3 linked regions of the Homo sapiens genome follow. The protein of the gene in region 2 interacts with the protein of the main gene of each other region in a biochemical or structural test. Each region holds a gene or a part of one and is shown on either strand. Other genes may lie near its edges. The genes, in order: CDC6, CCNF and MYBL2.

The links.
Region 1: the proteins of CCNF (region 2) and CDC6 form a complex in vitro, tested with the Homo sapiens proteins (one study listed by BioGRID).
Region 3: the proteins of CCNF (region 2) and MYBL2 form a complex in vitro, tested with the Homo sapiens proteins (one study listed by BioGRID).

The regions. Positions count from the first base shown.
Region 1 is NC_000017.11:40,297,736-40,301,390, forward strand, and holds part of CDC6 (cell division control protein 6 homolog), read left to right. Parts: intron 1-3,092; coding exon 3,093-3,295; intron 3,296-3,655. UniProt on the Homo sapiens protein: Involved in the initiation of DNA replication. Also participates in checkpoint controls that ensure DNA replication is completed before mitosis is initiated.
Region 2 is NC_000016.10:2,439,446-2,443,100, forward strand, and holds part of CCNF (cyclin-F), read left to right. Parts: coding exon 1-12; intron 13-303; coding exon 304-381; intron 382-3,655. UniProt on the Homo sapiens protein: Substrate recognition component of a SCF (SKP1-CUL1-F-box protein) E3 ubiquitin-protein ligase complex which mediates the ubiquitination and subsequent proteasomal degradation of target proteins.
Region 3 is NC_000020.11:43,670,114-43,673,768, forward strand, and holds part of MYBL2 (myb-related protein B), read left to right. Parts: intron 1-3,655. UniProt on the Homo sapiens protein: Transcription factor involved in the regulation of cell survival, proliferation, and differentiation. Transactivates the expression of the CLU gene.

The sequences.
Region 1 (3,655 bases), on a different chromosome or scaffold from region 2:
GCCAGCCTGGGCAACAGAGCGAGACCCTGTCCCAAAAGAATAATAATAAGAAGAATTATAAGTTCAACTTGGGATATCTCAAGCTTTTAAACAAGTCTAGAGGGTAGAGGTAAAAAGATCATACTGCTACAGTAAGCTGCATGGTATCACAAATGACAAAATTAATATTCCATTCCCTCAGCCTTGTTTTGGTTGTGGCAAATGTAAAATGGCCATGAACTACGTATCTTACAGTATTTGATATCCAGTGTTAGTCTTTATAAACAGAATAGTAAGATTTGATTGTTTCTTTTTCACTCCTACACTGGCTGGGAGTTTAAGTAAAATTGTTTCTGGCATTATAGTTCTGCATGAAATTCTTTCTTTTTTTCATCAATTTGCTAAAATAAAATAATTAAAAATGTTTCAGAAGTAGCCAAAAATAGTGCTTAGGCTAATAGTAGGCAATATATACCAATGTATAGACTTAGATACTGGTTTCTTCCTCCTTTTCAACTTTTCAGATTATCCCCTTTTCCTCCTCCTTTTTCCCCATCAGTAACATTTAGGCTTGTCACTGGCCCCTGTGAGCACCACTAACACAAACATAATTCAAAAAGGTAAAGAGGTTGTAAGTTCTATCTTTTGACTTCTGGTTTGTGCGGGATTGGCTTTTTTCTTTCTTTTTTTTTTTTCTTTTTGTGTAAAACAAGGTCTTGCTTTGTCTCCCAGGCTGGAGTCCAGTGGTGCAATTATGGCTGGTGCGATCATGGCTCACTGCAGCTGCAACCTCCCAGGCCCAAGCAGTCCTCTCACCTCAGCCTCCCCAGCTCCAGCTACTGCTAATTTTAAAATTTTTGTAGAGTCAGTGGGTGGAGGAGTCTCCTTATGTTGCCCAGGCTGGTCTCAAACTCCTGGGATAAAGTGATTCTCCTGCCTCAGCCTCCCACAGCTTTGGAATTACAGGCATGAGCCACCATACCAGGTTGAGATTGGCTTTCAAGGGCTCCAGAAAGCTATAGGGAGAATGACTTTAACTAAATATAAGAAGAAAATTTATAATAACTAGAACTAACTGGGCTTCCTTGAAACATAGTGGGTTCTCCAGCATTGAAGATATTCAGACAAAAGCTGGATAGATGCCACTTGTTGAGATTGTTCTAGAGAGGACTCGGCCAGTGGATAGGGAGTAAAAATAGACTTCTAAATTCCTTTCAATTTTAAGATTCTTTTACTTGATCTGTGATCTCCGGTTTCTCCATTAGTCCTCTGCAGCATCCCTTTGTGGTAATGTAATATTATAGAAGTAAATTGTTGTGGGGCAACTGCAAGTGATTTCAGGAAGTAACTTCAGGTAAAGGTTGTTACAGAACACATTTCTTTGTCTTGGAATTCATGCATCTCCAAACGATAAGGCCATAGTCTTTTTTTTTTTTTTTTTTTTTTTTTTTTGAGACAGGGTCTCGCTCTGTCACCAGGCTGGAGTGCAGTGGCGTGATCTTGGCTCAATGCAACCTCCTCCTCCCAGGCTCAAGCCATCCTCCCACCCCAGCCTCCTGAGTAGCTGGGACCACAGGCACACACCACCACACCCGGCTGTTTTTTTTGTATTTTTAGTAGCGATGGGGGAAACCCATCGCCTTGTTGCACAGGCTGGTCATGAATTCCTGAGCTCAAGCCATTAGTTATTTTTCCTGATCCTCTCCCTCCACCCTCCTATAGGCCCCAGTGTGTGTTGTCCCCACTATGTGTCTATGTGTTCTCATCATTTAGCTCCCACTTAGAAGTGAGAACATGTGGTATTTGGTTTTCTGTTCCTACAGTAGTTTGCTAAGGATATAGTCTTATGAAGCTTATTGGCAGTTTCCCAACCCCTGGCTTTTATTAAGATGATGATATCTGGCCAGGCATGGTGGCTTACGCCCATAATCCCAGTGCTTTGGGAGGCCGAGGAGGGCAGATTGCTTTGAGCTAAGGAGTTCAAGACCAGCCTGGGCAACATGATGAAACCCCATCTCTACAAAAAATACCAAAAAGAAAAAAAAAAAAAAAAAGATGGTGCTATCTGCTAGCATATCCAATGACATTTTCTCAAGTGTTGCTCTACTGCTAATCAGCTTGGGCAAGTGAACCAAACCTCAAAGGTCATTTGGGGAAGCCATCTGAAGGGCTGACATGGCAGCGACTTCACTCTCCACATTTAGCCACTCATTTGATCCAAAATATTCGGTAATTTTCCAACTTTTTTTTCCCTTTCTTTTTTTTTTATATGGAGTTTCACTCTTGTCGTCCAGGCTGGAGTGCAGTGGCACAATCTTGGCTCACTGCACCTCTGCCTCCCGGGTTCAAGTGATTCTTCTGCCTCAACCTCCCAAGTAGCTGGGATTACAGGCGCCTGCCACCACATCCAGCTAATTTTTTGTATTTTTAGTAGAGATGGAGTTTCGCCGTGTTGGGCAGGCTGGTCTCCAACTCCTGACCTCAGGTGATCTGCCCGCCTTGATCTCCCAAAGTGCTGGGATTACAGGCGTGAGCCACTGCACCTGGCCTTTTTTTTCCTTTCTTAATTACCAAGCACAGTCACCATCTTTGCTTCAAGGTTCTGTTATTCTATACCTCTGAGATACTAGGAACTAGCCTGGCATGGTGGCACGTACCTGTAATCCTAGCTACACAGGAGGCTGAGGCAGGAGGATCACTTGAACCCAGGAAGCCAAGGCTGCAGTGAGCCATGATAGTGCCACTGTACTCCAGCCTGAGTGACAGAGATCCTGTCCCAAAAAAAAATACAGTAGTTCTCTGGTCCTTTCATGAGGTGGGTTTTGTTCCTCTGACATTAAATTACATTCCATAGGACAAAACAGCTCACTATTTGGCCCAGAGAAAGGGTAACCCTACTTTTCAAGTCATCCCACATTATTTTGACATCCTTAAGAGAATAGCATTATCTCTCATCCTTTGGCCTCTGGTTAGAGATTTAAAACCTCTGCTTTGCCACCATGTGACTATACTTGAATTTCCTTTAGCTCAAACTTAGTATCATCTGTCTCATCATACATACACACACACAGTATTTTAGAAATCGAATTAAGCTTGGCTTATTTACTTTATAGGTAAATCACCTTCTGAGCCTCTGATTCCCAAGAGGGTTGGTCTTATTCACATATCCCAAGTCATCTCAGAAGTTGATGGTAACAGGATGACCTTGAGCCAAGAAGGAGCACAAGATTCCTTCCCTCTTCAGCAGAAGATCTTGGTTTGCTCTTTGATGCTCTTGATCAGGCAGTTGAAAATCAAAGAGGTCACTCTGGGGAAGGTAAGTTGGGATGGAGCAGATGGAACGGAGGTAGAGATCAGAATCTGCTTTGCAGAGCAGGTATTTTCCAAAAGGCCTATGATACTTCAGCTGATAATAAATTTAAAATGGATTTTAACAGTAAGAATTAATACTGGTACTATATAAAAGGCACCTATTTCCCTTGGATTGTGGTTGAGAGTTTATCATTAATCCTTTCCCTATCCTCCCCTTCATTTCTGCATCTCTCTAGGAAATATATAAAGCCCCTTTCCTACATTACTGTATAGGTTTTCGGGAATATCTACAGAAGCCTGTTCAAAGATTTTATTGAAAAGAGGAAGAAATAGGGTATTCAGATAAGTTTTTGCAAACCCAGAC
Region 2 (3,655 bases):
AGGAGGACAGATGTGAGTGGTGCCTGCTCTGGGTCGGGGGGAGTTATGCTGGACAAAGGCGTAGTTGATGCTGGTCCTTGGATGCGTTTCTGTCCACAAAAGGGAGGTGGCTCTTGCTGCTCCCGGTCTCTCAGCCTCCGGGAACCACTGGTCAGTCGGCTATTCTTGGTACCCCCAAAAATGACTCCACCATTTGAGAGAGAAGAGGTGGGAAGTTAGCGTAGTGTCGGCCCTTCTGGGTCTTGGTTCTGAGTTCCTCCCAAGACACAGTTGTACAAAGGCTCGGTGATCTCCCATTGACAGGTGTCAGATCCTGGGCGATGCCTCCACAGCTTCCGAAAACTCAGGGACTACGCTGCCAAAGGCTGCTGGGAAGCGCAGGTGAGGTGCGGGGCTGGGATGACGTGGGGAGCTGGCCTTTCTCCCTCCAGCCTTGGGGCAGGACTATCTGGGCTCCCACATTGGGGGGCAGGACTATCTGGGCTCCCACATGGGAGGCCAGGATTGAGGGACACCCTAAGATCGGTTCAGCACTGGAACTGGTCCTAAAGGACAGGTACACTGTGAGAAGAGCTGGGAAATGCGTTATTCATCTCTGCCTATCCACTCTTGCCTCTCAGCCAGCCAACCTCTTAATTTTCAAATGCTTGTGAGCTATAGCTGCTGTCAAAATTTGTGCCATTCTTGAAAGTTGTCCCATAGGTAGAACTGATCTTGACAACAAAACTTGAGGCTACTTGAGAGCAGAGGGGCGTGGAGAGTCCCTTCCTGCTTCCTCTTCCTGTTAGCGCCTTGCTTGTCATGTCACCTGGTCACCAAGTCATCCAGGGCTACAGGCAGGAAATCAAGCATTGGTAGACTCTCCCCTCACAGCTATAAATAAGTTGTTAGGGCCAGGTGCGGTGGCTCACGCCTGAAATCCCAGCACTCTGGGAGGCCAAGGTGGGCGGATGACCTGAGGTCAGGAGTTCGAGACCAGCCTGGCCAACATGGTGAAACCATCGCTACTAAAAATACAAAAATTAGCTGGGCGTGGTGGCAGGCACCTGATACTCAGGAAGTTGAGGCAGGAGAATCGCTTGAACCCGGGAGGCAGAGGTTGCAGTACCACTACACTCCAGCCTGGGCGACAGAGCAAGACTCTGTCTGAAGGAAAAAAAAAGTTGTCAGGACGAATCAAAGAAAGCTCCTATTTGCCAAATGGATAGAAGCTTGTTCTTGTCACCCCACCAAGTGGGTGGCAGAGTGATCTGCGCTCAAATGCTAGGGACAAAATTACAAATTGATAATGGCCCAGCCCGAGGTGTCATAGCACATTGTGGTGTTCACGTCCAAAAAGCCAGTCTACAGATTTACAAGAAGGCCAGACGTGATGGCTCACGCCTGCAATCCCAGCGCTGTAGGAGGTTGAGTTGGGAGGATCGCTTGAGCCCAGGAGTTCAAGACCAGCTCTGGCAACATAGTGAGACTCCATCTCGACAAAAAATTTTAAAATTAGCTGGATGGGCTGGGTGCAAGTGGCTCATGCCTGTAATGCCAGCACTTTGGGAGGCTGAGGCGGGCGGATCACGAGGTCAAGAGGTCGAGACCACCCTGGCCAATGTGGTGAAACCCCGTCTTTACTAAAAATACAAAAAAATTAGCTGGGCCTGGTGGCATGTGCCTAGAGTCCCAGCTACGCGGGAGGCTGAGGCAGGAGAATTGCTTGAACCCAGGAGGAGGAAGTTGCAGTGAGCCGAGATTGTGCCACTGCACTCCAGCCTGGCAACAGAGCGATACTCCATCTCAAAAAAAAAAAAAATTAGCTGGATGTGGTGGCGTGTGCCTTGTAGTGCAGCTACTCAGGAGGCTGAGGCAGGAGGATCACTTGAGCCTGCGAGGTCAAAGCTGCAGAGAGCCGTGATCGCAACATTGCACTTCAGCCTGGGCTACAGAGGGAGACCCTATCTCAACAAAAACATTGTTTACAAGAAATGCAACAACGTAGTTCTCGTGGAAGTTCAAGGGGCCTCAGTCAATTCTCACAAAAGAGGAAATAGGGCCGGGCGCAGTGGCTCACATTTATAATCCCAACACTTTGGGAGGCTGAGGCGGGAGGATCACTTGAAGCCAGGAGTTCTCTCTGTTGCCCAGGCTAGAGCACAGTGGTGCGATCTCAGCTCACTGCAACCTCTGACGCCTGGGTTCAAGCCTTCTGAGTAGCTGGGACTATAGGTGCCTGCCACCACGCCCAGCTAATTTTTGTATTTTTAGTAGAGGTGGGGTTTCACCATGTTGGCCAGGCTGGTCTAAAACTCCTGACCTCAAGTAATCTGCCCTCCTCGGCCTCCCAAAGTGTTGGGATTACAGGAGTGAGCCACTGCACCTGGCCAAAAAAAATTAATAATAAATAAATAAACTCAAGTGGTTAGAAATTGGAATGTTCAACCTTACTACTAGTCATAAGAGTGCACTTTTAAATGAGATATTTTGGGCTCATGATATTAGCAAATTATATATATATATATATATATATATATATATATATATATATATATGTTTTTGTTTTTGTTTTGTTTTGTTTTGTTTTGTTTTGTTTTTGATGGAGTCTTGCTCTGTTGCCCAGGCTGGAGCGCAGTGGCACAATCTCGGCTCACCACAAGCTCCGCCTCCTGGGTTCATGCCATTCTCCTGCCTCAGCCTCCCAAGTAGCTGGGACTACAGGCATTGCACCACCACGCCCAGCTAAATTTTTTGTATTTTTAGTAGAGACAGGGTTTCACCATGTTAGCCAGGATGGTCTGGATCTCCTGACTTCGTGATCTGCCCGCCTCGGCCTCCTAAAGTGCTGGGATTACAGGCTTGAGCCACCGCACCCAGCCCTTAATTATATATATATAATATCCATAATTAGATATATTTATAATATCTATTATTATATTATAACATAATTATATTTAGTCTGCCAGCTATTTATAATATATAATATTATATAATATAATATTATTATATATAATATATAATATTATATAATATAATATTATTATATATAATATATAATATTATATAATATAATATTATTATATATAATATATAATATTATATAATATAATATTATTATATATAATATATAATATTATATAATATAATATTATTATATATAATATATAATATTATATAATATAATATTATATATAATATATAATATTATATAATATAATATTATTATATATAATATATAATATTATATATAATATCATATTATTATATAATAATTATATATAAATATGTATTTATATATTGTATAACATATAATTATATAATAATTATAATAATATAATATATATCATATATAATATTATATATTATATTCTATAATATATAATATATTCTATAATATATGTAATATTATATTCTATTATATATAATATATATTATATTATATATATTATATTATAATTATATATTATATATTATATAATATATAAATATATATTAATATATATGATTATTATATATTATTATATTATATATTTTTATATATTTATATATTATATATTATTTATGTTAATTATATATTATATAATTATATTATATGTTCTATAATATATAATATAATATTATGTTATAATATCTATAATATATATTATAGATATATTATATATAATAGATATTT
Region 3 (3,655 bases), on a different chromosome or scaffold from region 2:
AAACAAACAAACAAACAGCATTGGAGCACCAGGGAGTGTCCATGCAGACATCATTTCATCCTTGAAAGAATATTTGCTGACCTTCTGTTAGAAGCCAGGCCTTTGTGCTGGATGCTGGAGAAGCAAAGATGGTTTCTGTCACGAGCTGTCTGGGGGCAGTTGATTTTAAAGCCAACTTCATTCTGTTATTAGTATCTTCTGGATTTTTGCCTTCTATATTGAAGTGGTGGAGGACCCATGAACTGGGTCAGGAATGAATTCCAGATCCTTCTGTATTGCTGACTGTAGACACCGTCCCTCCTTTCCTATTTCTGAAAATTTTTTTCTTTTGAAATTGGGTCTTGCCTGGCCTAAAAAATTTAATTAGTATTTCTTATTGACTAATAGGCAGCAGCTTTGCACATTTTTTCATTTATTTGTATATTCAGTCAGTCCCTGGGCAAACATTTCTTAAGCCCTTTTGGTGATAAACCCTGGGATGCCAAGGTGGAGCTGACCTTTGTAGATGATGTGGAGGAGACAGGCAGTTGCAGTGTAAGGGCCCGAGACAGGAGGGTTTCCCATGTGCTATGGAAGTATAGGAGTGACTCTAGGAAGCAACGGTGAGCTTTGGAGAACAAGGAGAAGGTAATGTGGATAGCACAGTAAGCCTTCTTTCATTTGTTTCATTTCCAAACAAGACTTGCCTTGTTTGGAAACCTGTAAGCTTTTTCCAGTTTACAAATGTCTGACCTAGCAACTTACCTGACCAACGTGACCTGATGCAGGTCCTGTCGGGTGGAGTTGGGGAAAGATTACTAACTTTCCTCAAGCACCTGACATCTCTGGAGGTGGATCCTATGATTTCTTTTTTTTCTTTTTTTTTTTTTTTTTGAGACGGAGTCTCCCTCTGTTGCCCAGGCTGCAGTGCAGTGGCACGATCTTGACTCACTGCAACCTCTGCCTCCTGGGTTCAAGCAATTCTCCTGCCTCAGTTTCCCGAGTAGCTAGGACTACAGGTACATGCCACCATGCCCAGCTAATTTTTGTGGGTTTTTATTTATTTATTTTTTTTGAGATGGAGTCTCGTCTGTCGCCCAGGCTGGAGTGCAGTGGCACAATCTCTGATCTCTGCTCACTGCAACCTCCGCCTCCTGGGTTCAAGCAGTTTTTCTGCCTCATCCTCTCGAGTAGCTGGGATTACAGGCGCATGCCACCACACCCAGCTAATTTTTTTGTATTTTTAGTAGAGACATCATTTCACCATGTTGACCAGGCTGGTCTCGAACTCCTGACCTTGTGATCCACCCACCTCGGCCTCCCAAAGTGCTGGGATTACAGGTATGAGTCACCGCGCCCGGCTGATTTCCATTTTTTTTTTTTTTTTTTTTTTTTGTGAGATGGAGTTTCGCTCTTGTTGCCCAGGCTAGAGTGCAATGGCTTGATCTTGGCTCACCGCAACCTCCGCCTCCCAGGTTCAAGCGATTCTCCTGCCTCAGCCTCCTGAGTAGCTGGGATTACAGGCATGCACCATCACACCCGGCTAATTTTGTATTTTTAGTAGAGACGGGGTTTCTCCATGTTGGTCAGGCTAGTCTCGAACTCCCGACCTCAGGTGATCTGCCTGCCTTGGCCCCAAAGTGCTGGGATTACAGGTGTGAGCCACCACACCTGGCCCGATTTCCATTTTTGTAACTATTAAACTGGATAAATACGAGGATTTTTTGGAGCAACTTGGAAGATTGCCTTGTAGAGTAAAAACACCCAGAATTCAAAGCAGCTCGTACTGTTTTTTTTTTTTCCCCTACAGCGGCGTTAGAAGATATTGTACACTGGGCCGGGCGCGGTGGCTCACGCCTGTAATCCCAGCCCGTTGGGAGGCCAAGGCGGGTGGATCACGAGGTCAGGAGTTCAAGACCAGCCTGGCCAAGATGGTGAAACCCTGTATCTGCTAAAAATACAAAAAAAATTAGCCGGGCGCGGTGGCAGGCGTCTGTAATCTCAGCTACTCAGGAGGCTGAGGCAGGAGAATCGCCTGAACCTGGGGGGCAGAGGTTACAGTGAGCTGAGATGTCGCCACTTCACTCTAGCCTGGGTGACAGAGTGAAACTCCGTCTCAAAAAAAAAAAATAGATACTGTACACTGATTTTTCTCTCCATTAATTATGCCTGTGTGTAGGCAAGGATTGAAAAGGGATTTGCAAAAATGGACATAAGCCAGACACGGTGGTGCACACCTGTAATCCAAGTTACTTTGGAAGGCTGAGGCAGGAGGATCCCTTGAGCCCAGGAGTTCAAGACCAGTCTGGGTAGCATACTGAGACCCTGTCATTACAAAAAAAAAAAAAATCAACACACGAAAAAACAACTTGGCCAGTCACAGTGGCTCAGGCCCGTAATACCAGCACTTTGGGAGGCCAAGGTGGGAGGATTGTTTAAGGCCAGGAGTTCCAGATGAGCCTAGGCAAAATAGTGAGATGTTTCTACAAAAAAATACAAAATAGCCAGGCATAGTGTCATATGCAAGTTGTTCCAGGTACTTGGGAGGCTGAGGTGGGAGAATTGGATTGCTTGAGCCTAGGAGTTGGAGGCTGCAGTGAGCTGTGATTATGCCACTACATTCCAGTCTGGGTAACAGAGCCAGACTCTGTCCCTAAAAGAAGAAAAACAACAAATGGACATAGAGAATATATTCAGAATTTTTTTTCCAAATAACTAATATCTCTTAAAATCTTGATGCCTGTTAACTTCATCAACTTTATTCCTTAAAATATCCATGCAGGTTTGTTACTGAAAGGAAAAAGCGATAGTCTGATTTTGAACATAATATTCTTGGTGAAATCTTAACTTTCTTTTTCCTTTTCTTTTTTTGAGACAGTCTTGCTTTGTCACCCAGGCTGGAGTGCAGTGACATGATCTCGGCTCATTGCAACCTTCACCTCCCGGGTTCAAGCAATTCTTCTGCCTCAGCCTCCTGAGTAGCTGAGATTACAGGCATGCGCCACCGCACCCAGCTAATATTTGTATTTTTAGTAGAGATGGGGTTTCACTGTGTTTGATCAGGCTGGTCTTGAACTCCTGACCTCAAGCAATCCACCCACCTCGGCCTCCCAAAGTGCTGGGATTACAGGTTTGAGCCACTGTGCCTGGCCTCTTTTTTTTTTTTTTTTACAGCTTTTGAAATCACTAGGGCATTCCTGAAAATAAAAAAGAAGAAAGTAGCTCTTAACCCTATTTCATTAAAAAATTTAAAAAGAGGTGAGGTCGGGTGTGGTGGCTCATGCCTATAGTCCCAACACTTTGGGAGGCCGTGGTGGGAGGATTGCTTGAGCCCAGGAGTTCAAAACCACCCTGGGCAATATGGTGAGACCCCGTCTCTACAAAAAATACAAAAGTTAGCCGGGCGTGGTGGCATACCCCTGTAGTCACAGCTACTTAGGAGGCTGGGGCGGGACGATCATTTGAGTCCAGGAGTTCAAGGCTGCAGTGAGCTACGATCATGCCACACTGAATTCCAGCCCAGTGACAGAGTGAGACCCTGTCTCAATAAAAATAAGTGAAGCAGAAGTGCCTATGTCTTAAAAAGAAGAAAAAGTAAGAGCCTCTCTCCCCCAGACCTTTCCCTAGGGTGGGCTGGCCGCTGCCTACACGTTCTCCATTATGTAAAACATATGGA